2 linked regions of the Homo sapiens genome follow. The protein of the gene in region 2 purifies or fractionates together with the protein of the main gene of each other region. This does not show direct contact. Each region holds a gene or a part of one and is shown on either strand. Other genes may lie near its edges.

Region 1 (3,500 bases), on a different chromosome or scaffold from region 2:
ATAACTCCATTGACCTGAGAACCACTCCCCAACCCCACACAGTGGCCACAGCAAGCCCTGCCCAAGGAAAGTCTGACTCAGACCCACCTAACTCTGCCCTAACCTGATGGTTTTTCTCTACCTGCCCTGGTAGCCAAAGACAAAAGACATAAACTCTTGGGAGCTCTATGGCCCTGCCCATTACCTAAGAAACCAAAATACTTATCCTGGCCTACATAGACAAGCTTGTATCCCCCCTATACTACTACAGCTGATGCTTTCTTGAAAGCACCACCTCCTCGCTGAAGGCCAACCAACTCAAGCCACTACAGAAACTCGTAACAGAACAACCCTGCTCCAAAAAGGGAAAAACAACAGCTAATTCCACCGCCTGCAACATCCTGGCTAACCAGAGATCCTGAGTCTGTCCACATGGCAACTTCACTGCTAGCATAAACCAGCATTCAAGAAAACCAGTGCACTAAACAAAAATACAACCAGGGACTCCCACAGAGTCCACTTCACTCTCCTGCCACCTCCACCGAAGCAGGTGCTGGTATCCACAGCTCGGGGACCTAAAGACAGATCACATCACAGGACTTTCTGCAGACATTCCCCAATACCAGCCTGGAGCCCAGTAGCCGCACTGGGTGGCTAACCCCAGAAGGGCATAACCACTGCAGTCCAGCTCTCAAGAATCCTCATCCTTAGGGGAAGGCGAAGAACACCCCATCAAGGGATCACCCCATTGGACAAAAGAATCTGAACAGCAGCCCTTGGGTTCCAGATCTTTCCAATGAAACAGTCTACTCAAATGAGAAGGAACTAGAAAACAAATTCTGGTAATACGACAAAACGAGGTTCTACAGCACCTCCCAAAGATCACACTAGCTCTCCAGTAACGGAGCCAAACCAAGAAGAAATCTCTGAATTGCCAGATAAAGAATTCAGAAGGTTGATTATTAAGCTACTCAAGGAGGTACCAGAGAAAGGTGAAAACCAACTTAAAGAAAATTTAAAAGGACTCCAGAGAAACAGATATCATAAAGAAAAGATAATCAAACTTCTGGAAATGAAAGACACATTTTAGAAATGCAAAATACACTGGGAAATTTCAACAACAGATTAGAACGAGTAGAAAAAAAGAACTTCAGAGCTCGAAGACAAGGCTTTCAAATTAACCTAATCCAAGAAAGACAAAGAAAAAAAGAATCAAAAAAATGAACAAAGCCTCCAAGAAATTTGGGATTATGTTAAACAATCAAACATAAGAATAACTGATGTTCCTGAGGAAGGAGAGGAGAGAAATCAAAAAGTTTGGAAAGCTTACTTGAGGGAATAATTGAGGAAAACTTTCCTGGTATTGCTGGAAATCTAGACATCCAAATAAAAATGCTTGAAGAACACTCAGGAAATTCATTGCAAAAAGATCACCACCTAGGCATATAGTCATCAGGTCATCTAAAGTAAGACAAAGGAAAGAATCTTGAAAGCTGCCAGGCAAAAGCATTAGGTAACCTATAAAAGAAAGCCTATCAAATTAACAGCAGATTTCTCAGCAGAAGCCCTACAAGCCAGAAGGGATTGGGGTCTTATCTTTAGCCTCCTTAAACAAATTAATTATCAGCCAAGAATTTTGTATCCAGCAAAACTAAGCTTCATAAATAAGGAAGAGATACAGTCATTTTCAGACAAACAAATGCTGAGAGAATTCGCCACTACCAAGCCAGTCCTACAAGAAATGCTAAAATGAGTTCTAAATCTTGATACAAAACTCACAATACACCTAAATAGAACCTCCTTAAAGCATAAATTTCACAGGACCTATGAAACAATATCACAGTGCAAAAAAACAAGGTATCCAGGAGACAACTACCATGATGAATAAAATAATACCTCATATCTCAATATTAACGCTGAATGTAAACTGCCTAAATGCTCTACTTAAAAGGTACACAATGGGCCAGGCTTGGTGGGCGGCCAAGGCAGGCAGATCACCTGAGGTCAGGAGTTTGAGACCAGCCTGGCCAATATGGTGAAACCCCGTCTCTACTAAAACCACAAAAAAATTAGCCAGTCATGGTGGCGGGCACCTGTAATCCCAGCTACTCAGGAGGGTGAGGCAGGAGAATTGCCTGAACCTGAGAGGTGAAGGTTGCAGTGAGCCAAGAACATGCCATTGCACTCCAGCCTGGGCAACAAGAGTGAAACTCTGTCTCAAAAAAATAAAAAGATACACAATGGCAGAATGCATAAAAATCCACCAACCATGTATCTGTTGTCTTCAAGAGACTCACCTAACACATAAGGATTCACATAAACTTACTGTAAAGGGGTGGGAAAAGATACTCCACACAAACAGAAACCAAAAGCAAGCAGGAGTAGCTATTCTTCTATGAGACAAAATAGACTTTAAAGCAACAAGTTAGAAAAGACAAAGAGGAACATTATATAATGATACAAGGATTAGTCCAACAGGAAAATATCACAATTCTAAATATATATGCACCTAATACTAAAGCTCGCAAATTTATAAAACTGTTACTACTAGACCTAAGAAATGAGATAGATGGCAATACAATAATAGTGGGAGACTTAAGTACTCCACTGACAGCACTAGACAGGTCATCAAGACAGAAAGTCAACAAAGAAACAATGAAATTAAACTATACTCTGGAGCAAATGGACTTAACAGATATCTATAGAACTTTCCGCCTAAGAAGTACAGAATATATATTCTTTTCTTCAGCCTGGAACATTCTCCAACATGACAGGCTACAAAACAAGTCTCAATAAATTTTAAAAAATCTAAATTATATCAAGTACTCTCACAGATCACAGTGGAATAAAATTGGAAATCAACTCCAAAAGGAACCCTCAAAACTATACAAATACATGGAAATTAAATAATCTGCTCCTGAATGATCTCTGGGTCAACAATGAAATCAAGATGGAAATTTAAAAATTATTTGAACTGAATAATAATAGTGATACAACCTATCAAAACCTCTGGGATACAGCAAAAGCAGTGCTAAGAGGAAAGCTCATAGCCTTAAATGCCTAAACCAAAAACTCTGAAAGAGTACAGATAATCTGAGGTTACACTTCAAGGAACTAGAGAAACAAGAACAAACCACACTCAAACCCAACAGAAGAAAAGAAATAACTAAGATAAGAGCAGAACTAAATGAAATTGAAACAAAAAATACAAAAAAGATAAATGAAACAAAAACCTGGTTCTTTGAAAAGATAAAATCGATAGACCATTAGTGAGATTAACCAAGAAAAGAAGAGAGAAGATCCAAATAAGCTCAATTACAAATGAAATGGGAGATACTGCAACCAATACCACAGAAATACAAAAGATCATTCAAGGCTACTATGAACACCTGTATGTGCATGAACTAGAAAATCTGGAAATATACAAGCCTCTTAGATTAAAGCAGGAAGAAACAGAAACTATGAACAAATCAATAACAAGCAGCGACACTGAAACAGTAATTAAAAAAACTGCCAACAAA
Region 2 (5,324 bases):
AACCAGAGTACTTCTCCTCTCTGGCTGCAGGCATTGGTTTAGGAATGAGCATGTGACCAAGTCCCAACCAATGAGAGTCAGCCCTGGCAGTTTGTTGCAGCTGCTGGGAAGGCTCCGGTTTCCACTTGGGTCTCTAAACCGGGAACTCAGACAAAACCAGGGCTTGGCAAACTCCAGTGCTGTCTGCTTTTGTAAATAAAGTTTCATTGGAACACTGCCATACCCATTTGTTTTGTGTTGAATATGACTGCTTTTGCACTACAATGGCACAACTGAACAGGCGTGACACAGGGTGCCTGGCCCTCAAAGCCTAAAATCTTCATGATCTGGGTCCGTACAGATGTTTGCCTCCTGCTGGCCCTGAGCTGCCAGCAAACATTGTGCCATGACTGGATGAGAGGCAAAAGGAGGTGGGGGCATTGACCAGAAGAGGAGTTGAGTTGTGGATGGGATGAGGCTTTTTTTTTTTTTTTTTTTTTTTTTTCAGACGGAGTTTCACTCTTGCTACCCAGGCTGGAGTGCGATGGCACAATCCAGCTCACCGCAACCTCTGCCTCCCGGGTTCAAGCGATTCTCCTGCCTCAGCCTCCCGAGTAGTTGGGATTACAGGCATGCGCCACTACGCCCGGCTAATTTTTGTATTTTTAGTAACGACGGGGTTTCTCCATCTTAGGCTGGTCTCAAACTCCCGACCTCAGGTGATCTGCCTCCCTTGGACTCCCAAAGTGCTGGGATTACAGGCTTGGGCCATGGCACCCAGCCGGAGGCTGAAGTTTAAGATGATCAAGGGAAGGTGCTTGGGGTTGGGTGGGAATGAGAGGAGCTGGCAGAGAAGGCTGGGGCCACAGGGCATTTCAGGAAGTTGGCCTTGCAGGATGAGACTGGGGCCCCATCTAATGCCCTGGGGTAAGTGTCGGGAGGTGCTGAGGCAGGAGAGGGGAAGTGGCAGTCAGGGGTAGGCCCAAGCACTCACCTTGTGACCTCAGGTCCCCCGATTCTCTCAGGTTCGTCTGCGACCCTAGGGGAGGGGAGGGGGACAGAGTGTCTAATCTGGACATAGGGAACCCACCTCCCGCAACCCACTGCCTCTGGGACTCCAAGCAGCCCCTGCCTCAACCCCAGTCCCTCCGGGCTGGTGAGGGCCTGGAGTCAGGATTTGATCTCCTTGTCCATCCCCATAACGGGGCTCATTCTGAAATGGTTAGTGCAGGTCACAGGAAAGATACTGAAGAATGTGGAAGATGAAAGGGAGGGGAGTGGGCAGAGACACACCCTTACATAGATAAGTGGCCACAGAGAGAAAGAGAGAGACACACGCACGTGTGCACACACACACACTCCCTCGCTCACATATACATTCATGCTTTGCTCAAACAACACCTCCTTCGTGAGGCCTGCCCTTTTTTCTTTTTTTGAGACAGAGTCTCACTCTGTCATGCAGGAGTGGCGTGATCTCAGCTCGCTGCAGCCTCAACCTCCCAGGCTCAAGCAATCTTCCTGCCTTGGCCCCTGAAGTAGCTGGGACTACAGGCGCGTGCCACATCTGCTTTTTGTTTTTTGTTTTGTTTTGTAGAGATGGGGCTTTGCCACATTGCCCAGGCTGGTCTCAAACTCCTGGACTCAAGTCATCTGTCCAAAGTGCTGGGATTGCTGGCCTGAGCCACCTCATCCAGAGGCCTGCCCATTTAATGCTGCACCCCATCCCTTCCCCACACCCCTTATTCCCCTCCCTGTTCAATTTTTTTTTTTTTTTTTTTTTTTTTTAGAGACAGGTTCTCCCTCTGTTGCCAAGACTGATGATCATAGCTCACAGCAGCCTTGACCTCCTGCGTTCAAGTGATCCTCCTGCCTCGGCCTCCCAATTCCATGGGAATACAGGTGCAGTCACCACGCCCGGCCAATTTATTTACTTTTTTGTAGAGATAGGATCTTGCTACGTTGTCCAGGCTGGTCTTGAACTTCTGGGCTCAAGTGATCCCCTCGCCTCAGCCTCCCAAAGTGCTGTGATTACAAGCATAAGCCACCAAATTTGGCTCCTACTCTATTTTTCTTCTTAGTTACTTCGCACTACCTAGCAGTCTATATAGTAAGTATATTTTACTTATTTCTTTGTTTTTTGTCTAGATCCCTTAGTAGAATGTTGGGTCTGCCAGGGCAGGAGTTTTGTACATTTTGCTCACCCTCTACTACAGGGCCTAGGACAGTGCCAGGCACACAGTAGGGGCTCAATGAATAATAGCAATTAATAACTAATACACATGTAAAGCACTTTCCAAGGCAATGTTCTACGCTCAGTCCATACGTCACTTCATTTAGTCCTCACAATAACCCTAGGAGACAGGTATTGTTATTACTATACCCATTTTACAGAAGAGGAAAACCAGGCCCAGAGACCTTGAGTGACTTGCTCAAGGTCACTTGGCAGAGCTGCCATTTGAACCCCCGAGTCTGGCTCCATAGGCTGTGCTTCTGTGAGTAAATGAACAACCAGACCCCACGCACAGACCCTCACATCCACAGAGCCCCCTCCCAATGCCCGCACACACAGGTCAGACATGCAGGCAGGGAGGCAGAGCCAGCGAGAACAGGGCATGGACGGGACTTACTGATCTTGGATCCCTGGGGCAGAGAGGCGCCCGAAACACAGCGGTTAGAGTTCTGCCGTTTAGAGGGATCGAGGGTAACCCTGCAGTGTGAGGAGGGAGGTGAGGGGTGACAGGGGAGGAGGAAAGGAGGAGGAGGAGGAGGAAACGAGGAGGAGGAGGAGGAGGAAGAGGAAATGTTGGGGTACAGGAGACAGAGCAGAGTGGAAGACAGGTTAGGTCCCATCGGCCCCCCGCCCCGCCCTGCCCCTGCCATCCCCGCGGAGCTCACCTTCGGGTCAGTTTGGAGGTCAGCTTGGTGAAGAGGTTGGTGGTGGGGCGGGGCCGCCCGGCGGGCAGGGGTGCAGCCTCATGGGCCAGTGTGGGAGAGGCAGGGGGCCCATTCTGCACACCCCCACCACCCCCACCCCCTGCCCGCCGGTCCCGGACCTGGCCACCATGGAAGGTGCTGCGGATGGTGGAACCACGTGCCAGGCGGCTCCGCTCCCCTGATGGGGGTGCCAGGCTGTGACTGGAGGGGGAGGCAGGGGGCACCCGTGGGGTGCCTGAGCTGTGGGCAGAGACAGACAAGTCAGGGTGGGGGACTGAGGCAGGCCAGGGCCCCAGTCCCTTTGATTCTTCACATTCCTGTCCTGAGACCAGGGACTGCAACCAGCCTGGAACTCAGAGACAGGGCTGCAACGTACAGTTGTGCAGGCTGTGCACTATACAATCCTAGCATTATTTTACTGACTCTCTCCTCTCCTATTACCCCTCCTTCAAACTGTCCCTTCTTCAAACTCTACCCGCTCCAAATCATCTCCTATCACAACTCTCCTCTCTCTAAACGCAGCAACTGAATAGATGCACAGACATTTTTGGGTGACTTCCTTGCTATTTGCCGAAACCTCAGGAACCAAATCAACTTGGCAAACACTTTGCTATCTGAACTCTCACCATCTAAAATCAGGAAAGGGATAGATGTAAAGGTCAAGGATACCTGTATTCACTATGGTAATCTGGGCAGTGGGGGTTCCACTGTCCCAGGACCCTCCTCCAGCCCCTCGGACCCTCCTAGTCGACAGCAGGGGCCAGACCTCCATCTCCTGAGTTCAATTCTCCTGCCTCACCCTCCTGAGTAGCTGGGATTACAAGCGTGTGCCACCATGCCTGGCTAATTTTTTTTTTTTTTTTTTTTGAGACAGAGTCTCACTCTGTCACCTAGGCTGAAGGGCCATGGGGCAATCTTGGCTACTGCAACCTCTGCCTCCTGGGTTCAAGTGATTCTCCTGCCTCAGCCTCCTGAGTAGCTGGGACTATAGGCATGCAGCACCACGCCTGGGTAGTTTATGTATTTTCAGGAGAGATGGGGTTTCACCATGTTGGCCAGGCTGGTCTCAAACTCCTCACCTCAGGTGATCCACTGGCCTTGGCCTCCCAAAGTGCTGGGATTCCAGGTGTGAGCCACTGCGCCCAGCCCAGACCTCCAATTTCTATCCTCCCAGGGACTCCAGGCCCAGCCTGGATCTCAGAGAAGAATCCTGATTGTGGCAGAGGCTGTTACTTCTCCCTTAGAATCCATCCTCCCTGTTTCGTTCTTGGTAACCAAACCCCTAAGAGTATGAGCACTGCACATGGCCACCCAGCCAGAGACTACATTTCCCAGACTCTCTTGCAGCTAGAGATGGTTATGTGACCATGCTCCGGCCAATGGGATATAAGCAGAAGTGCTCTGTACCATCTCTGGGTGACGCCTTTACAAAGAGTTGTTGCTTGTCCCCTACTCTTTCCCCACTTCTTCCTGATTGGGAAATGATGGCTGCTGGTGCAGCGGCCTCAGTCCCAGAGCTGGAAACTCATTTTGGGGCTGGAAGAACTTACCTGGGTCCTTGGAGGACCCTCCGGACTAAACGTCCTTTTTATTTAAATTACTCTACCCTGGGATCTCTTTGTTTTTATTACAGCAGCTAGCTGAGTCTATACTTTTTATTTTTTGTTGTTTTTAAATTTTTTTTTAATTTTTGATTTTTTTTGTCTGAGTCTGTAATTTAACTGTTCCACTATCTCTTGAGCAGAACTGGAAGGCCATGTACTACAGTGATTACAAATAAGATTCTGGAGTCAAGTCTGGAATCTGCTTCTTGACTTACCAGCTGTGTGGCCTTGGATAAGTTACTTAACCTCTCTGTGCCTTATGTCCTCAGCTGTAAAATGGAGATATTAGGATCTACCTCACAGAGTTGTTAGGGGCACTGAGCCAGGCAATAGACATAGAAGCCTGGCATGTAGCTGCTGCTTCATGAATGTTCACTATTGTTATTTGATAACCACCAAAAAAAAGCACTCTCAAGTCACTGAATGAAGGCCTCCTAAGCATCAGACCCAGTGCCAGGTACAGGACACACCTGATCTCTACTGCATCTCTATAATGGGGCCTGGAAGTGGACAGCATCAGCCCTTTTTTTTATGAGACGGATTCTTGCTGTGTGGCTCAGGCTGGAGTACAGTGGCGCAATCCCAGCTCACTGCAACCTCTGCCTCCCAGGTTCAAGCGATTCTCCTGCCTCATTCAGCCTTCTGAGTAGCTGGGATTACATGCACATGACATCGTTCCTGGCTAATTTTTGTATTTTTAGTAGAGACAGGGTTTCATCATGTTGGCCAGGCTGGTCTCGAACTCCTGACCTCAGGTGATCTGCCCACCTCGGCCTCACAAAGTGCTGGGATTACAGGTGTGAGCCA

Evidence for each region.
Region 1: the proteins of MARK4 (region 2) and RPIA purify together in Homo sapiens (affinity purification with mass spectrometry; one large-scale study listed by BioGRID and IntAct). This does not show direct contact.

Annotation. Positions count from the first base shown.
Region 1 is NC_000002.12:88,743,673-88,747,172, reverse strand, and holds part of RPIA (ribose-5-phosphate isomerase), read right to left. Parts: intron 1-3,500. UniProt on the Homo sapiens protein: Catalyzes the reversible conversion of ribose-5-phosphate to ribulose 5-phosphate and participates in the first step of the non-oxidative branch of the pentose phosphate pathway.
Region 2 is NC_000019.10:45,295,505-45,300,828, reverse strand, and holds part of MARK4 (MAP/microtubule affinity-regulating kinase 4), read right to left. Parts: intron 3,154-5,324; coding exon 2,875-3,153; intron 2,687-2,874; coding exon of another isoform or gene 2,607-2,686; intron 1,019-2,606; coding exon 974-1,018; intron 1-973. UniProt on the Homo sapiens protein: Serine/threonine-protein kinase. Phosphorylates the microtubule-associated protein MAPT/TAU. Also phosphorylates the microtubule-associated proteins MAP2 and MAP4.